Homo sapiens: one gene and its partner. The protein of the gene in region 1 purifies or fractionates together with the protein of each later gene. This does not show direct contact. Each region holds a gene or a part of one and is shown on either strand. Other genes may lie near its edges. The genes, in order: CDNF and LYRM4.

Evidence for each region.
Region 2: the proteins of CDNF (region 1) and LYRM4 purify together in Homo sapiens (affinity purification with mass spectrometry, with the first as the bait; one large-scale study listed by BioGRID). This does not show direct contact.

The regions. Positions count from the first base shown.
Region 1 is NC_000010.11:14,834,926-14,839,533, forward strand, and holds the start of CDNF (cerebral dopamine neurotrophic factor precursor), read right to left. Parts: upstream 3,113-4,608; 5' UTR 3,022-3,112; coding exon 2,907-3,021; intron 1-2,906. Other genes in the region: HSPA14 (heat shock 70 kDa protein 14), read left to right, coding at 3,478-3,534. UniProt on the Homo sapiens protein: Trophic factor for dopamine neurons. Prevents the 6-hydroxydopamine (6-OHDA)-induced degeneration of dopaminergic neurons.
Region 2 is NC_000006.12:5,219,163-5,222,974, forward strand, and holds part of LYRM4 (LYR motif-containing protein 4), read right to left. Parts: intron 1-3,812.

The DNA of each region.
Region 1 (4,608 bases):
CTTGAGTAAGGAGAAAGGAGCAGGACCAGTCAGGAGGTAGACTCAACGATGTAGTGATTGGTTGGGGGATAAGGGGGAAAGAGAAGTCTAGAATCTAGGCTAGGTGACCAGGTAGTTGTCCCATGCTGTCACCGTAAGCATGACAGTAACAGGTTTAGGGGAGTGAGAAGGGAAGGAGATGATGACTTTGGTTTTTTGACTGTGTTGATGTTGATGTACATCATATCTAAGAGGGCATGTTCACTAGTCAATTGGATGCAAGGTCTGAGACTCTAGAAAGGTCAGTGGATATAAGGTTAGAGATTTATTAGACTGGAGGTAGGTTGGTTTGGGTTGCCAAGAAGAGTGTGTAGACTGAGAAGAGAGAAGAGAAGAGAGCAGAACCCTGGAAAATTCTAAGCCATGGCTAGAGGATCAGAAGCCCACAAAGACACACTGGACAAGTGGGCATAGAGACAGGAAGGAGAAAAGCAGTATCATGACCATGAAGAGAAGGCAGTCTCTGAAAGGGAAAGATGTCAATGGTGTCACACACCACAAAGAAGTCAAGGTAAGAAAGGAAACTCATTTTCTGGACTTACATGAAGAGAATAACCTCACCATAAATGCCCTAACAAATTAGTAGCTTCTTAAGTTTTCTGGGATGTCTTTATTGCTAAAATAACCTCAGATAGCCATACTTCTTTTATTTATATTGTGCTTTTATGTTTATTAAAGATAGTTTTATAAGTGAATCTATAATTATTTTAAAATAAAAAGTTATTTAAAATAGTCCCATAATATAATCCTTTAAAAGAGATTTGGAAATATTTATGTTTTTCCAGTAAACCTCACATTACCTAATAATAGGACTCACAGACTTGAATATCTACAGGGGCCAGGCAAGGAAAAAGAAGAGTTAAGCAATTTGAATCGGGGGCAGAGTAGGGGCGGCAAACTACTCAAAACCCAAGTCCTTTCTAAAAAGAGCAGCCAATAGCCAATTCTACTATACAGCCATAAGGCCAATCTTGCCAGGTCATCTGGTTTTTTGAGAAAAGCCAGAAATATGAATTTTTACATAAAATTTCCCAATTTTAAAATGTACCCAGTGAATTTAATTTTTTTCAAAATATTTTGTAAATGTAACGAAACATATCAATAGGTCCGAGACGGCTCAGGAACCATTCAGTTTTTTTGCCTTCGCTCTAGAGTATGTATAATATGGCATTTTAATCTTATACATTGAGAAGAAATTAAGTTGTAAATAAGAAAGGAGGCTGAGGAGGGAGGATCACTCATAAGCAGTAATAGAGCTGGATGCAGAATCTGGTTCTTTTAGTTACCAAACTGTTATGTCCTTCCTCTGCGATTACACAAGCTTCTTTACCTAACAAATGAAATATATAGACAGGTTAGTCAGACATGCAATAATCACAGCATGCTGTAATAAATTTAGGACAGACAGCATAAGCTTCCCATTTAATTAATCCAGATGCTGTCTCTCTTGAAACATTTATAAGTGGGAGCCCCAGATGAGTCATCAAATCAATTGTCTTTGCCTCACAAAGTCTGTTTTAAAAGTATAGGACACAATTATAGCATGGTTTGGAGCAAAATTATAACTTAGCTAAACAAATATCTTTATATCGAGTAATAACATGTAGATATTTTAAATTTCTGGAGAAAAGTTTAATTATTGCAGAGCTCATAGAAAGCCAGGCTCCAATTATTAACACTTTAAGGACTGGGCGCTGTGGCTCACGCCTGTAATCCCAGCACTTTGGGAGGCTGAGGCGGGCCGATCACCTGAGGCCAGGAGTTCAAGACCAGTCTGGCCAACATGGTGAAACTGCATCTCTATTAAAAATATAAAAATTAGTCAGGCGTGGTGGTGGTGCCTTTAGTACCAGCTACTTGGGAGGCTGAGGCAGGAGAATCGCTGGAACCCGATGATGGAGGCTGCAGTGAGCCAAGATTGTGCCACTGTACTCCGGCCTGGGCAACACAGTGAGACTGTCTCAAAACAAAAACAAAAACAAAAAACAAAACAACAAAACAAACAAAAACACAACTTTAGTACGACTATACCCATCCATTCACTCAACATATATGATGAACCTACAATTTCCTGTTCACTAGGGATATATTTTCCAGCTGAGGGCATATACATTTAAACTAATTATTTTCAGTAAAACATGGAGTGAGCGCTACAGGAGTCCAGAAGGAAGGGGCTAGCATAGCCACTTACCTTCTTTGCCTTTGCTAACAGATCTCTAAAGTGAAGTACGCTGATTTTGCAAAAACCAAAGTCTCAGAGCTAGGGGACTTGGTGGGATACAGACTCACGTATTCTGACTGCGAGTTCACAGCTGAGATACCGTGAACAAAAAGGAACCACTCTTTTGTATTCCTCTCTTTCCCAAGGAGTCAGTGTACTCCTTTGCAAAGCAATTTTCACCTACAGAGTCCTAACAAATATTAGCTATGTCCTCTGATTTAAGCTACTCAACTCAATGCCATGTTTTGTTTTCCTTTGGGGAGTCACCAACTAGCTTGGACTTGAAAGACGTCTTCTGTGCAAGGGGAGGCAAATCTTGCTGGTTGGAAGCAGCAGAATCAATCTGGCGCCAGTATCATCTGAATCTAGCATTCTTTGCACAAACTCTAATCCAAATACAAACCCACCAGCTTTTACTGCTGAAGTTTAATATTCACAGCAAAACCACAACGTGGCCTCACGTTACCACCAGGCCCGGCTTGAGCTTTTTACTCGAGCTGGGCTTGGGCGATCTAAAACGAGGGACAGGGCCTGCATTTCCTGGGCGGAATGTTATTTATAGCCAGGGCCAGGAGAAGCCAAAGCCGACAGCTGCTGCGCCGCAGCGCGGGGCCGCCGCCATGCAAGCAGTTGTCACACCGCTCACCTTCACAGTCGGCCCCTGGCCGCCCCCCGGCCTCCTGGCCCTGCGTCAGCACCGGGTGAGAGACCAAAAGCCCGGCGCAAAAGGCCACCACAGCAACTGGGCTCGCGCACCACATGCTGGGCCAGCAGCTTCAATCGCCTCCGCCACCCGCGCCCACCGCCCACCAAGCTGCCAAAGCGAGCTGAGCAGAATTCGAGGTTGGAAAGAATCTGCCAGTAGTTGCCAGGACAAATGACGCAACTGAACACAGAGTTTCCATTGGCTCTCAAGGAAGGGATAGGAAGGGGGCGGAGTGTAGGAGCCTTTTCCCGTCCCTCCCCGGTTGCGCGTGCGCACTGTGCAGTTTCCGCGGAGCGCAGAGACGCGCTGAAGCTACTCGCGGACTGCGCGTGAAGAAAGGCGGAACCTTCACGCTGATTGGCGGCGACGCGGGAGGCTGTAGCGGCCGACCGGACGCAGGGGGCTGGCGGGAACGTGAAGCTCCGCGGTGCCTGATGGGGCCGTTGGGCGGCCGGTAGCTGTTGCTGTTGGGGGACCCCCTCATTCCTGCCGCTGCCGTCCCTGCTGCCTCATGGCGGCCATCGGAGTTCACCTGGGCTGCACCTCAGCCTGTGTGGCCGTCTATAAGGTGAGGGGCTGCGGAGCTGGGCTAGGGCTTCATGACGGCCACCCGGTTTTCTGGCGCTGGGTCATCCACAGGCTTGAGAGCGGCGTGTCGCCGGCCTAGGGATGTCGTGGAGTGGCGTTGCCGCGAGGACACTCCGGAGCGAAGGGCCGGGCAGGCCCGGCCTCGCGCCTGGCGATTCCTCCGGAAAGTCGTCTACTCCGCGGCGGAGGCTCGCGGCGATGTAGACGCGCGGGGTCCCAGGGCGTCATGGCGGCGGGATGCCCGGAGGGGTCCCAGGGACGACGTAGCTGCAGGGTGCCCGGGGGGGTCCCGGAGACAGCGGGGCCGCTGGGTGTCCCGGGGGGTCCCGGGGACGGCGGGGCTGCGAGCATTTTGGGGGAGGTCACGGGGACGTCCTGGCCTCTGGATGCCGGAAGGGGTCTCGCTGACGTCAGGGCCTCAGGATTCCCGCGGGTGGGAGGTCCTGGGAAAGTTGTGGCCGCGAGGTACTTGGAGGCGGTGGTCTCTGGGACAGCAGGGCCGCAGAACGCGCTGAGCTGGGCCCGAACGTCTAGGTCCCGGAGGGGCGGGGAGGCTGCAGTCGAGCTGGGGCTGATGGTCCCGCAAAGCTGCCTGGCTGTGAAGCCAGTTGATGGTGCGTGGTCTACAGAGGTGGCCTTTCTGGAAGTGAGAGCCTGACAGGACTTGTGGCCTTTCTCTCATCAGTGGGGAGGCAGAAGAAACGATAATCATGAACTCCGTTGCCACTAGTCCCGCGTTTAAATGTCAAATGACTTGTTAGGAAAAGCCAAAGGGAATAATACTACTTCATTTGTAGAAATGGGAAGAAAGGGGCCCAGCGCGGTGGCTTACGCCTGTAATCCCAGCACTTTGGGAAGCCGAGGCAGGCGGATCACGTGAGGTTAGGAGTTCTAGACCAGCCTGGCTAACATGGTGAAACCCCGCCTCTACTAAAAATACTAAAAATTAGCCGGGAACGCCTGTAATCCCAGCTGCTCAGGAGGCTGAGGCATGAGAATGGCTTGAACCCGGGAGGCGGAAGTTGCAGTGAGCCGAGATCTGGCACTGCAGTCT
Region 2 (3,812 bases), on another chromosome or scaffold:
AGCTAGGAAAAAAGGAGTACTGTTTGGAATGTAAAGACCTAAGGTCTTCCAAAGTTTAAGGAAATGAGAAAATAGCTTAAAACACTCAACAATTTATATCAACTGAGCTCAAGGCCCAGGGTCAGGATATTCTGCTATGTATACTTGTTTGTCTCCCCAGCTCTCCAAAGTCCTTACCTAAAGAAAAGCAGCTCTAGATCTTGGAATTAAATGTGTCTAAAGCAATCAAGAGTCATGATTCAAATTTTCGATGCACTTTCGAGATGAATGCTGTAATGGTTCCCTCCTCTCTTTCCTGCTCTTTCTGCCTCACTTAAAGCACCCAGTGTTATTCTTCGCCCTAAGGGAAAATATTTCACTGGCTCAGAACCACAAAACTACTACTGCATGAAGAGTTTCTTCCTTAGTTGTAAGAATTCTTATTTCGAATGATCACAGCTTTGTGAAAGTCATCAAAAATCTGAGTGAATCTTCAAATTTGGTGGGAGGGGGCTAATCACCAGTTATTTCAATCCTGGCCCTGCCCTGGTTTTTATCATTTGCTTTTTTTTTTTTCTTTTTTCTTTGCTTTTCTTTTTTGCAGATTCTGGCTATCAGCCTCTTGACCATACCACTGAGCAAGAATATTTCAAAGAAAAATTTGCAGAAGTTGCTGTGAAAATGGCAGCTAGGTGCTACACAATGCTGTGCATTAGGATGATCCTAATGAGTCAGACGCTGTCTGAAATACGGCATGAAAAACTAACGCAGAAAGGGCAACACAACCAAATACAAAGCAGCAGCCCCACAGCCACAGAAACAGTGAGGTGATGATGCTCGCACACACACTGCCCTTTCCACTCTCCTGAAGCTTGGCAGTTTCTTGGTGCTTCTTTGCACAGGAGACTCCCATTTGGCTTTCCTTCTCCACCCCAGCCTTTGCTCTTCATTCTGTCATTAGATCTCAAGTGCCCACAGGTTCTTTTTACCATTGCAAGGATTATACTCTTTTCTGAGATTCTTCCACTCAAAACTCCAATTTCCCTGTTGCACAGCAGGCAGTAACGAAAGCTCTTCAGTGCTTGAGGTTCTGCTTTACTCTGTCCCCTCCCAGAAACACCAAATGCAGCCATAATCACAGCCTCTGAGCACTTGGAGGCTCATATCAGCTTTAGCATCCAATGTGTGATGTGGAAACCACCTAATGTAATGCCTTTCATTTCTGTCATCTTCATCAGCATCTCAAGTGCTGGTTTCTCTGTGTACCTATCCTATAAACACATCTGTGCCTTTTCTTGGTCCTCTGTAACCTGAACTCAAGTATCCTAGGAACAATAAAAGCTGAATCCTTTCTACTGGCCTCTGTGGGGCAAACTCATCTACCTCCAATGACTTGGAAGGACACATCCTCCACCTACTTGCCTTAACTGAAATGTGCAAGAGGAAGCTGCTAAATTCTAGCATGTCCCCATATTCCACAGGGCCCAGAGGAGGGTGCTGGTGTATTCCGGGAGCCTGCTGCTGCTTTCAGATCACTGATTCACCCTTATGCATCTTTGAGGTCATGCCATCTGACAATACTGTGTTGCATGCCTCCATGATACTGTTACTTGTTAATTTCTGGAGGTCAAGTCTTCATATTCAAGTCTTAATGTCTAAAGAGCACTCATTGCAATACACAGACCTCCAGTTTTAGGTTTCTTTTTTCAGAGACAGGGTTTCACTGTCACCCAGGCTGAAGTGCAATGGCCCTATTATAGCTCTCTGTAGCCTCAAACTCCTGGGCTCAAACGATCCTTCCGCCTCACCCTCCCAAGTAGCTGGGAATACAGCAGCATGCCACCATGACCTGCTAATTTTCATTTTGTAGAGAGAGGGTGTCACTATGCTGCCCAGGCTGGTCTCAAACTCCTGACTTCCAGTGATCCTCTTGCCTTGGCCTCTCAAAGTGCTGGGATTACAGGTGTGAGCCACTATATCTGGCCTAGCTACTCCTTCCCAAGCTCCTTTGTGGGCTCATCTCATTCTGCTGCCCCTTACATGCTGTATTCTCTAGGGCACATATGTGAACCATTTTTCTTATTCATAAGATCTCTGCCAGTAATTGCATCTGTCAAAGGTTTCACCTGCCATATAGATGCCATTGGCTACCAATATTTCTCTAGTCCAGACCTTCCTTCTGAGGTCCAAATCCATATACCCAATTGCCTTTTGCACTTGTCAACTAAAATATAGACTCTTCCAGTGAATACATTCAAAACCGAAGTGCCTGGCTGGGTGCGGTGGCTCATGCCTGTAATCTCAGCACTCTGGGAGGCCAAGGCGGGCGGATCACGAGGTCAGGAGTTTGAGACCAGCCTGGTCAACATGGTGAAACCCTGTCTCTACTAAAAATACAAAAATTAGCTGGGTGCGGTGGCACATGTCTGTAATCCCAGCTACCTGGGAGGCTGAGACAGGAGAACTGCTTGAACCCGGAGGCGGAAGTTGCAGTGAGCCAAGATCGCGCCACTGCACTCCAGCCTGGGCTACAGGGCAAGACAATGTCTCAAGAACAAACAAACAAACAAACAAAAACCTGAAGTGCTCATGATGACCAATACTTCCTTCCTCAGGTAGGAGAATCTTCATGCAGTCAACTGCCCAAGTCAAATACTTAGAGACTCATCCTAAATTCTTTCCTTTCCCAGAACTCCCTATATGCAACCAATCACAAATCTTCCAATCGTAACTTTCCACATCCCTTCTGAATCACCTCTACTTCTCCAACTCCTCAGCCCCAATCTTGGTTCAGGCTCTTCTCTCTCGAAGTTATTTAACATCCTTGGGGTTATGGTGTGTGTATGTGTGTAGTGTATAATCAAATGGATCACGATGCCTATGGAGAGGAAGCTCAAGGATCATTTGAAGGTCACACGGACTCTGGGTATATAACAGAGTGAAGAAGAGCAGAAAGTTTCTTTCTGATAATGTGAGCTCCTGGTACAATGTAAGCCCCACATAGCAGGAACTTTAATCTTTCTGGCTCACCACTGTATGTGTCTGGTACAGAGAAGATATTCAATACATGTTTAATGAATAAATGAGCTTATCAAAATATCATAGGCAATATCAAAAAGACCTTCAAGAAAAGTACCAATAACCAATAATGAAAACAAAACAATGAAAAAAGGGTTTGCAGCAAAAAGATTCAAACAACTTTTAGAAGGCAATGATTACAAAATTCAAAATTACAATTTATTCAAGAAATACATACTAAATGCCTACTATATAAGCATTATGCCAGGAGCTGGGAATACAGTGGAGAATAACTAGGGTACTGGTCTCAGGTTCGGTGGGTGACAAGATCTGTAGATAAAGAGATGAAATAAGAAACAGAAGCCATTCCAAGTTAACACAAAGGGCCCAAGGGGACTGGTTTGAGGTAATGGAGTGGTCCTTCTCTTGAATGGGGCGGTGTTTTCACATGCCCTTAGGTTTGTCAAATCATTGAACTGTACCCTTAAAATGGATGCACTTGATTGTATGTAAATTATTCCTCAGTAAGATGACTATTAAAGTAAATTAAAAAAAAGTATAGAAGTTATATTACATTTGCCCACTTTTAAGAAAAGCAAAACAAGAAAAAAAAAAAAAGAAAGATTAGAATGCTAGAGAATATGTACATGGCTGACAGAAGCAATAACACTGAATTAAAACAAGACAAACTAGAAATTCAAATCTAAAGCATGGAAAAATTAAATACGTTGGTGAGAAATATGTAAGAAAAAAATTAACCTTCAGAATAGGGCAAAGGTGTATAACCTATGAATAATAAGTGTGAACAAACTGAA